Linked DNA regions of Homo sapiens: region 2 is linked to region 1. The links come from fine-mapping of genetic effects on gene expression. Tissue or cell type: cerebellum. Region 1 holds a variant in brackets; the other region holds the start of a gene. All regions are shown on one strand. Distances are between the middles of the regions.

The links. PIP is the estimated chance that this variant, and not a neighbour inherited with it, causes the effect.
Region 2: GPC1 starts here. The variant in region 1 is fine-mapped to the expression of GPC1 in cerebellum (GTEx, PIP 0.95).

The regions. Positions count from the first base shown.
Region 1 is chr2:240,457,509-240,462,698 of GRCh38, reverse strand. It overlaps GPC1 (glypican 1), which reads right to left. Exons shown (of 9, transcript NM_002081.3): 2 at 3,511-3,669; 3 at 117-508. Among named protein-coding and RNA genes, the nearest start is that of GPC1-AS1, 3.4 kb to the right of the region's middle. RefSeq lists enhancers at 2,843-3,493, 3,494-4,143, 4,144-4,795. The variant A/G (reference allele first, on the strand shown) is at 2,538.
Region 2 is chr2:240,432,723-240,437,935 of GRCh38, reverse strand. It overlaps GPC1 (glypican 1), which reads right to left and starts at 2,273. Exons shown (of 9, transcript NM_002081.3): 1 at 1,852-2,273. The coding sequence starts at 2,017. RefSeq lists enhancers at 1-272, 324-900, 2,634-3,210, 3,610-3,904 and silencers at 2,025-2,084, 2,145-2,804.

The sequences.
Region 1 (5,190 bases):
AGAGGCTGGCCCAGAGGCCCAGGGGCACAGGGTTAAAGTAGGGGGAAGAGGAAGTCCCTTGGGCAGAGCATGGGGGTCTGGAGGGGTTTCTGAGAGCCCTGGGTGGCTGTGCGCACCTGAGCCACTTTCCGGACCACGTCGCTGGCCACGCCCAGGCCCTGCACAAAGGAGCGAGCAGCCACGAAGGCACGGGTGGCCCGCAGGCGCAGCTCTCTCGGGGCCTCCCCGAAGGGCCGCAGCGCCTCGGCCTGCTTGCCCAGGCAGTCCAGGTAGTCATCAGGCAGCAGCAGCTGGGGGTGCAGCTGCTTGAAGAGGCGCTCGAGCAGGCGGGCCCAGAACTCGGCCAGCGTCTCCTCCAGGTGCAGGTTGGCACCGCGGTAGTACAGGCGCAGCTCTGAGTACAGGTCCCGGAAGGCCCTCGCGTTCTGCGTGTACAGCTCTCCGAAGGCGCCGGGGAAGGTGGCCTGCAGCGTCCGCTCCGAGTCGTTCAGCAGGTGCTGGAAGTGGTCTGCGCACAGGGAGGGGGCGTGATCGGGACCATGTTTCCCCCGCCGTGGCAGCTGGACCAGAGCAGGGGACTCAGCCCGGGAGACTCAGCTCTGAGGATACACTCTGAGGACCTCGGAGTCGGACGCCACACTGCAGCGGCTGTGGGCCCTGTGGGCATCCATGGGGCGCCCCGAGACCTCACCCCCTGGCCTGGGGAGCAGGGGCCCAGGTGGCAGGGGGTCCTCTCGGGTCTCAGGGCCTCTGACTGGGGCTCCAGTGGCAGTTTCTGAGCTGAGCCCTGGGCAGAACAGATGCTCTGTGACTCAGTGACCCCCTGAGAACACCCAGGGAGGGGCTGCTGGTGGAGATGGGGACTCACTGGGGTAAGAGGGGCAGGGCCGGTCTGTGCCCCCCTGCCAGCCGCTCCTTCTCTCCACTGGTCCCCACTTGTGCTCCCCGTGGCCCCAGCCGCCTGCCCTGCGAGTCTCCAGGGCTGCTGCCCCTCCCGCCACCCTGTCTCGGCTGCTCTCCTAGGCTTCTTGTCTTCTCTCAGCTTCTGCGATTTAGAAGCTTCAGCTGTGAGCACCCCGGGCCTGTCTGAGGGCTCTGGGGGGCCTCCTGCAGCCTAGAACCCCAGACATCTCCCCTGCTGGGCAGGGGGTGTGGAGGCACAGGCTCACCCTCAGACCTCCACATGTGCTGCAGGGGCTTTAGGGAAAAGCCCCCGTACCCCGGGCCTAGATGGGACCCTGGACTTCCCCATCCCATTTGGAAGTGGGACTTCCAGGTCTGTAACTGCTCAGAGCGTCCCTAGGGCTGTGGCCGGCTTTGCCCCACAGGTACCGGGGGCTCGATGGCCCACCACAAGGTGCTCCAGGGTAGCAGGGCAGAGGCTCTCCTTTGAGGCACGGGGGCCGTCAAGCCTGAGATCTCTGGATCAGCCCCCACGCTGACCCCTGGCAAGGCCTGGGGCTTCAGGGCTGGCAGGGCTACAGAGAGCTCCCAGGCCGCTGTGGGGAGGGTGGACGGGCCACACAGCTGTCCAGTGTCCACCTTGGGTCCTGGCGCCTGGAACGCCCTGGCCTGTCCCGGAAAGGGGCGGCTTGTGGTTCATGCATTAGCCCAGACACACCTAGAGGGCCATGGGCCAAATCCAGGTGCAGTCCCCAGCTCTACCTCCTGCCAGAACCCATTCAGCTGCTCCTGAAGGCTGGTGGGGGGGCGGACACAGGGCTCCAAATCCCTGAACACAGCAACCAGAGGTCCAGCCAGGCTCCCCTCCTACCGCCTCCCACTGGTTCCCACCAGCACTGCAGACAAAGACCCAGGGGCCCTCAGCTGCCCCGGAGGCTGGGAGGGGACAGCAGCTGCCATGGGCAGGGGTGGGAGGGGAGGACATAGGAGGTGGGGGTTGGACAAGACTCCCTGGGGTAGGGGCACAGGTGGGCCTTGGGCACATCACATAGTGGGTCATTTTTAATACAAATGTCCCCAAAGGGTGTCTGTGTTTTCAGGTCAAAGATAGGAGAGTTGAACAGGAAGGCTGGAGGCTTCCAGAGGGCAGCAGAGGGAGGGCGGCGGCAGGGCACTGACACGGGACAGGCCCCAGAGCAGGGCAGCGACACCAACCCCCTAAGAGCCAGGAGGAAGCAGGCGGGCAGGATGTCCCCAGGCCAGGAGGATGGTGTGATGGGCAAGGGTATTAGCAGGAGAGGGGAAGGGGCAGGGCTGGGTGGCACGCTGGGGCGGGAGCCAGGGCTCAGCGGCGCTGGGGAGAAACTGAGGCCCAGGATAGAGTGGAGGAGGTGAGCCGGGTCCCTACACATGGGACAGAACCAAGTGGCTCAGGAAGGCTCCTGACTCAGGGTGCAGGGGCTCGCTCCCCGGGTCCAGCTGGGCAGGAGGAAGGAGAGTCCCAGAGGGGCCACGCGCATCCCACGGGCCCCACACCAGCGGGGAGGGCTGAGCTCTGAGCATCGATGTCCAAGTCACAGAGAGGGAGCTTCTGACCCACTGCTACCCAGGTGTACGCCAACAGCTGAGGTCCC[A/G]CAGCCCTGTGGAAATGGCCTTGGGGGCTCCTGGGGACAGGCAGACTCTCCCGGGAGCCTGGGAGGCCACAGCAGGTGTCCAGGAGCCGGAGAAGCAGGAACGCTGAGACAAACCCCAGGGCCCCAGCAGCAGCTGCCGTCCCTCACAGCCACAATGGAGCCCTGCAGCCTCAGCGCTCCCTCCCTCCTGTCTGCCCAGGCTCACTGTCCCGGCGCCCTGGCTCCGCCCGGACACAGGGGCAGTACCTCAGCCCGGGCCGCCTCCCTCCACCAAGTCCTCGTGTTTCTGATCAGAGGTCACTTCATGGAGGACCTCCTGACCCCACACTGTCCCCCTGGGGGTGGCTGCCACTCTCTGCCCAGACACAAGGCGAGGCCCAGCCTGGGCCGAGGAGTACGTGGCTCTAATGCAGCAGCTGGCGGGGCCTCAAGGCCTGCAGGGGTCACTCCCCGCGGCCCCCAGACTCCTGCCCCGATATAAAGGGCTGAGTGGCGGCCACCCCAGGCAGGCCCTGCACTCTGCAGCCCTGTCCCCAGCCCCAGTCTCAGCCCTTGCACTGAGCTCCCTGGCTCCAGGCCACCTGGTCCCCAGGGGCAGTGGCCTGGGGCACTTGACGAGCTGCAGGCAGGATTTGGCCAAGGCCTGTCTCCCTGCAGGTGCTCAGGAGAATCTGCTGGTGACAGGAGCCTCTGAGGGGCTGATGGGATAGGCCCTCTGTCCCCAAATGTGCACTGGGAATGGGCTGTGCACACTCCCAGGGGGGTGTCAAACCCTGCAGATCCCTGCCTGAGGGCAGCCCCCAAATCCCAGCTGGGGCTTCAACCCAGCGCCCTAGCCCCAAAGCACTAACTCCCCCACCTCCTCCTGCCAATCCCCCACCCTTGGCATTGACACACCAGGCAAGGCCCAGTGTGCCCCTCCCCCGATGCACCGGCACCCTGCGGGCCCCGAGCGCCCGTGGGAGGCACTCACCATCGAAGCTGCGCAGCTGGGTGGCAAGCATGGCCTGCAGGACGCGGCTGCTGTCCCGGAGCGCGGTCTCCAGCTCGGCATGGCTGCGGTTGGCCAGGTTCTCCTCCATCTCGCTGGTGCAGCAGGTGTAGCCCTGGGGACAGATCCGCAGGTGCTCACCTGTGGGGAAAGGCCAGTGTGAGGGAGAGGGGCTGGGACAGCACTGGGAGCCAGGAGGGCACCCTCAGGCTCTCCTGGGCAGGATGGCAGACCCAGGGTGGAGCACAGCTCAGGGGTGGGCCAGCCTGGGGGGTGCCCTGGGTGAAGGCAGAAGTGGTCGGGGTGTGGAGGGAGGAAAAGGCCTGGCTTCGGTCCCGTAGCTTCCCACACGTGACACAAGAGCACGGCTGCCTCTACAGGGCAGGAGGCCCCTTGGGCAAGTCCTGCCCCCCAGCCTGCTGTCCCAGCAGCTGCAAGCAAAGAACTGGCCTCAGGTTCCTGTGTGCAAGTGTGGAGAAGGCTCCCAGGCCCGAAAGGCACCCCTTGCCTGGGCCCATGTCTGAGGATGGGGAAGGAGGAAGGAATCCAATCCCCCTCTCTTCCCACACCAGCCCTGGGGGGCACCAAGCTCCCACTGCAAGGACGGCAGATCCCACCAACAGTGGGCTGGTCAGAGGCAGTGGCCCTGCAGGACCCCAGGCACGAGTCTGGTATGGGGGCAGGTGTGCTCTGGTGCAGCTGGCAGGCCCCATGAAAGGGTCATTGGACCATGCCCCAAGCCCTGCAGGGTGCACCCTGTGCCTCCTGGTGTCCTTGTGGAGTCCCCTCCTCTGCAGCCTGCCATGAGCTACTCTGCTCCAGCGTCCGAGGCAGTGACAGCGGCACTGCCATCAGAGACAGCTTCACCTCCTTGTGGGGAGTGGGGACAGGACAGGCTTTGAGTCAGCTCTCAGCCCTGCTGTGCACACCTCAGGGCCCACCTGGAATGGGTGTGTGGCATCAGGAAAAACTGCATTTTTTAAAGGGTGTGCATCGCACTGTGATGAAGGCTGCCGCAATCCTCATTTTATTAACCAGAAAACCGGGGCTTACAGGGATGAGGTCTCGTCCCAGCTATACAGTGAGGGGGCAAGTGGTTCCGGCTGCCTAAGCTCAGGACTCCACACTGACGGGGCCACACTGTTCCTTCTGGGCCTCGTCCCCCGCCTCTAAGGCCCTCCTGGTGCTGGCCTAGGTCAGGCACAGTGGAGAGGTGGAAGCAGGAGCCTGGCTTGGTCAGAGGGGTGGGGTCAAGGGGGGGCGTTGTCAGCAGGAATTCCAGCAACTTTCCTCAGGACTGCCGCCTCAGGGGCCTGTCTCATCCTGTTCTGGGACCCTGGGCCAGGGTGGCTGGAATGCAGCAGGTCCTGCATTCTTTTACGCCCTCCTGAGGGTCAGCAGGAAGTGAAGGCCAGGCCAGGGAGGAGAGGCAGGAGAGGGAGCCAGGACCGGGACCGAGGGCGGGGTCAGCCCGGGCAGAGGCACCTGGCTCGAGGCTGTCCTGGGGGAGCTGGCAGCAGCTCCAGCCCTGCCTGGAGGTGGGAGCAGGGATCTGTAGCCCCACTGCAGGCAGGGCCTGGAGCAGCGCAGGCAGTGCCCTACCCGCTTACTGCAAGAGAAGTCACCCCTCAGGCCTGGGGTCCAGGAAGCCCTTACCCACTA
Region 2 (5,213 bases), 25 kb after region 1:
GTCCTGCCCTCTCTTCTCACCCTTGGGAGATGGCCAAACTCTGCCACTCTGTCTCTCTAACTGGCAACAGTGGCCTGTGGATGCAAGGAAGGTTAGGTTGGCTCCTAAGGATGCAACTGCCCAGAGGACATGGAGGTGCTAAGAAGGGCTGGGGGCTAATGGTTTCCAAAGGAGCAGGGTTCAAGACTCTGGGCTGGGAGGGGCAGCCACTCAGCCACTCTGCTACCCTGGTGCCTGGGGAGGGATTCACCAGGAAGGCCAGGGATGCCTCTTTATGTGTGAGTAGAGGGGCAGAGAACGAACCCAACTGTGCCGAGGGCCTTGTGCTGCCTGGCATCCAGGTGTGCCCCCTACCTGGGACAGACAGAGCCCAGTGGGGTGAGGGGGGCAGCCTGGAAATGACAGGGTTGCCTCTGCAGAGGCACAGGAAGGCCTGTCCTGGGGACTTTGGAGGGGTCCTTGCAAGAACCTCAGGCTGGTGGGGAGGGCATCGGGAGATCCGCCAAGGGACTGTCTGCGGGTTCTGTTCCTTCTGTGGGGGGCGGTCAGGGGGCCCTTACAAGAACCTCAGGCTGGGGGCATCGGGAGATCCACCAAGGGCAAGGGGCTGTCTGTGGGTTCTGTTCCTCCTGGAGGGGCAGGGGTCCAGAGCCCGACTGCCTCCTCCCACCACTCCGCCCCCCGCGGCAAGGCATGGCCACAGACCCCCCTCACCCAGATGCACGGATCCTTCTTGCTCAGAATCCCCAGGACCATGGGCATTTCTGCGCTGAGTCCCCATCTGAGTAGCCCTCCACCCGCACTCCCACTCCCCTGGTTTCAGAGGAGCCCCCCAGAGCAGGAACCTAGTCTGTTTTGTTCTTGCCCACTGGGTCCCTGGCACGCGGTACAGACCGAGGTTGGTTCCCACACGTGGAAAGGTGAAGCTTGGGTTCCAAGAGTTCCTTAGCACACGGAGCCCACCGTTCCACCCACCCGTACACTTCTGTCCCCAAAGCTCCTCCGGGACCACAGGGAGGGAAGAGGCAGAGCCGCAGGCGGCTGCAGGGCTTAGGGGGCGCCAAGAGGGCCGCTGTTCTTACAAAGAAATGACACGGCCCCTGGGCGGGATCCAACGCGCCGACCACCTGCAGCTGGACTCGCGGCACGAGGCTGCCCAAGCGCCAGGCGGGGGCCGGCGCGTACAAGTTCTTCGACAGGAATCTCTACGAGGCGGCGGCGTTCCGCCCGCGGATAAGTGCCCAGCTCCCTCCCCACCCCTCCGCACTACCCCCCGAGGGGGTCAGCTTATAAAACCCACCTAGGCTGCCTTTGCTGGAGACCCTACGAGAATCCCCGGGCAGGACCGGAGACGCCTCCCAGAGAGGTCTGTACAGAGCAGAAGGGGTCCGCGGCCACCGTCAGCGGCGCCCCGAAAGCCCGGCCACGCCGAGCCCCACAGCGCCCCGACAGCCGGCCCCGGGGCTGGGACTCCCGGCCTGCAGGCGCGCTGGGCCGAGCGGCGGGCAGAAGACGCCCAGCTCCAGCCGTGGCCCGGGAGGAGCGCCCCGAGCCCGCAGCCCGGCGAGATCAGCTCCGCAGGGAAGAAGCCGGCGTGCGGGGGGCGGGGAGGGGCGGAGGACGACCGAGCGGGGCGGAGGAGACCCTGGCGAGGGAGTGCGGCGCGGGGCTTGGAGGCGAGGGCCGTGGGGTTGCAGAGGAGCCGCAGCGCAGGGAGCCATTCGGGGCCCGGGCGGCGGGGCGCAGGCGGCAGGATCCCGCGCCGGGGGCGAGTAGCCGCGTCGGGAAGACCAGGGTCCGGAGCCCAAAGCCCGGCCAGGCCCGGGTTCCCGGCGCCGCGCCCTCACTCACCCGAGATCTCCGCCTGGGGCACGTCGCTCAGGCTGAAGCCCTTGGCTCCGTAGATCTGGCGGACCTCGCCGCAGCTCCGGCTCTTGCTGGCCGGGTCCCCGCGGGCGCAGGCGACCAGCGCTGCGGCCGCACATAGCAGCCACCAGCCTCGGGCCCGGAGCTCCATGGCGGGGCCGGCGGCGCCCCCGGCCACCCGCCCGCGCCTCTCTCGGATCCTGGCCGGGTCCTGCGCAGTTCCCGCCCGCGAAGGGCAGAGCCAAGGTCCCGGCGCGCGCGGCTCGCGGTCCAGAGGCGGCGGCGGCCGAGGAGGCGGAGACAACAAAAGCCGGCGGCGGCGGCGGCGCGGGGCGCGCGGGGTGCGAGGTCCGAACGCTCGCTCGGGCAGCCCAGAGCGCGGCGGGCTAGCGCAGTCCCGGCTCGGCGCCTCCCCCGCCGCCGGCCCGGCCCCTAGGCGGCCGCGGGAGAGGAGAGGGGCGGGGCAGGGTGGGAGCGCAGGGGTGGGGGAGGGACTGGGAGCACCGGGCGGGGCGGGGCGGGGCGCGGCGCGGGGGCGCGGGCCGGGGCGCACTGGGCGCTCCTCTGGCTCTTAGGGACCCAGAGGGCCCGCCTGGCCGCGCGACTCTATCGATCCCCGGCGGGAGGCGGCGGAGCCGGGCAGCGCGGGGCCGCGGCCGGGGTCCCCGAGGGCGGCCCCCCACGCCCAGCGCCCAGGGCGGTGGCACCACCTGTGGGGGCGGGGACGGGGGCGGAGGGTGCGCGAGGCAGGGCTTCCCCCGCCGGACGTGACATCACGCCTCCCGCGCCCCAATCAGGGGCCTCCCCGCCCCCAGCCGAAATCGGCATCCCGCTCCCCGCTCCCTCCCGCGCGCTCCGGCTTCCTGCACCCTGGCAGCGCGCCCCGAGAACGCTCTCCCGGCGCCTCCGTACCCTCCGCCCGCCGGCCGCGCCTCGAGCCGCCGCCCCTCTCCCCGCCTGCACCCCGCAGCGGCTCCCTCCCCGCGCCCTTCCAGCCGTCTCGCGCTGGGCTCCGGCTCGCACCGGGGGCTTTTGTGGTGTGGGGGCTGCACGCAGGAAACTCGCCAAGAAACTCGACCTCACCTCTCCCAGTCCCAGGGAGCGGCAACAGATGGCTTAATTGTTGGACCTTGACAGCTGTTTTGGGGGGGTGACCCTCCACGTTCTTTGGATGCTGGAGAAACCAAAGTGATGGGGCAGGGCCGGTCTACTGGTTTGGGCTGCTGGGTGGGGCCAGATGACCTCTGGAGAAGGGATAGGGTTGGAACCCGGCGACTAGTTAGGCCACTGGGGGAGGAGGGTGGAGTGAGCCGGAGCAGATGCCTCTTTGAAGAAGGCGGGAGGGCTGCCTGCACCTTGTATGGTAGGAGGGCGCGTGGCTTTAGCTGCACATGGGGAGTTGGGCTGGATGGGGTCTGTAGGGAGGGGGCGAGGACTGCGATGTTGGTGTCTGGAGGGCTTCACTCCTTCCTTGGCTCCCAGACCCCCCACCCCGGCCCCCTGTTCTCCACATGGTAAGGCCTGGCGGTGAAGCCAGGTGCCTGAGCTGCAGAATTGGGGGCAGGCATAGAGGTCAGTATCCTTGGCAGAGAACCTCAAGATGACCCCCATGTACAGCAAGGGTGTCCTGATTTCAGGGCCTGTGGCATCACCTGGAAGCTGCAGCGGGGTCCGTGGTGGGGGTGGTGGCAACATTCCCTACCCCTTCTGTGCCTGGGGCTCTCAGCCGCTGTGTGGGGCTGGAGCAGGAAGGTGGGGTGCCCTCCCCCTGGGCTCTTGGGGTTTCCTGCCCTGCCTCCCAGAGAAGGTTGCTCCTTCACCCAGAGACACTGAGTCATTGCTGGAGAGGGAGGCTTTGGGGACCCAATCCAAGTGTGCATTTCCCTGCCCTCCCCCACATACCCTCTGCTGCGTCACATTTTGTGACTCACAGACCCCTGTTCAGTACATGCTCCAGGCTTGCTCCTTCTTGCCTGGGCCTGGCGTGGCTGCCTGCACACCTTATCCAGCACGGTCAGGAGCCTGGGCCCACGATCCCGCTCTCTCTCTGTGTGGTCTCACGCACTGCGGGATCAGGCAGGGCTGCCTGGGCCTAGGAAGCTGGACTTGAGGTTAACCCGGCCTGAGGCTCTATAGTTACCCCGTCACTGTCTACGCCTCCTCTTAATCTGACCAGGTTGGGTTATTCCTCCAGGCAAGTCCTTCCTCCAGCCTAGTTCTGGGCCTCTGGATGGCAGTGTGGACAGCAGGGCTTAGAACGCGATGGTGGCAGCCTCTGCCTGGCCCTGGTGACCCCTGGGTGGCTTCATCTCCTAAGGAAGTCCTTACCACCATCGCAGGTCCTGGAATCATTCCCATTCCGCAGGCCAGGAGACCTGTAGCCAGGGCCTTCCCTGGAGAGGATGCACATGCCGCCGGGGGCATTGGAAGCAAAAGCCGTGTTTGCACCTGGGAGGAGCCGCAGGATCCTGAGCAGCTGCAGCTACCCCTGCTTCCCTCCTGGCAATGCTGCACACGCCCGCTGTCACCAGGGCAGGAGCCGCCAGGCTGCCCGTGCTAGTCGGGTGCAGGGTCCAGACTGGGACTCTGGGAGGATGGGCAAGGCTGATCAGCCCCCTCTTCCACCGCTGTCCCTGGGGCCGCTCCACACAGGACACGTGGATGGGTTTGAGGACATAGTTGATGCCTCGAATCCCAGCCACCACAGTGACCCTTGTGGCTCTGACCAAGACCACCCCCTCCTGCTTTGGTGTCTTTGCCTGGCTAGACAGTGGGGGCACACGTATGCGACACAAAGAAGGAATGAATGAGCAAGTGAGGAAACACCTGAGAGGAAAAGTTTGTCCCTGAGAGTGGGCGTGTGGCGCAGCCTGGACCTGCTCTTCCACAGGTGCAGTGAGGGCAGAGGACACTTAGCATTGTCTGACGGGCTGAGGCAGGCAGTGCCTGTTGGGCCAGGGCGTGGGGGCCTCCCTTCCATGCCCCCATCTTCTGTGGAGGACCCCAGGTCCTGGAGGGCGTGTACTGCTGGCTTAGGGCCCACTCCTGCCTCTGCCTAGGGAGGGTGGGGGTCTGCGGGATGCTGAGCCTGGTCTCTGCTCAGAAGACACAGGGAGCGCCGGGGGGCCCGCAGCTCCCAGCCGTTCGGACGGCAGGTCTGCCCAGAAATTATCCTACTTTTGCTCCGTGGAACCCTCGTGAGTGTGCACGCCCTTGCCCGCTGCCATGGACGGACAGCTTCCCTTTCTGTTTGGTTTCAGGGATTGTCTTTCGGAGACTCCAAAAGTAAGTTTCCAAACAGACTGAGCGATTGTTGTCGCTGCCATCCATGGCTGCCTTCTTGTGAA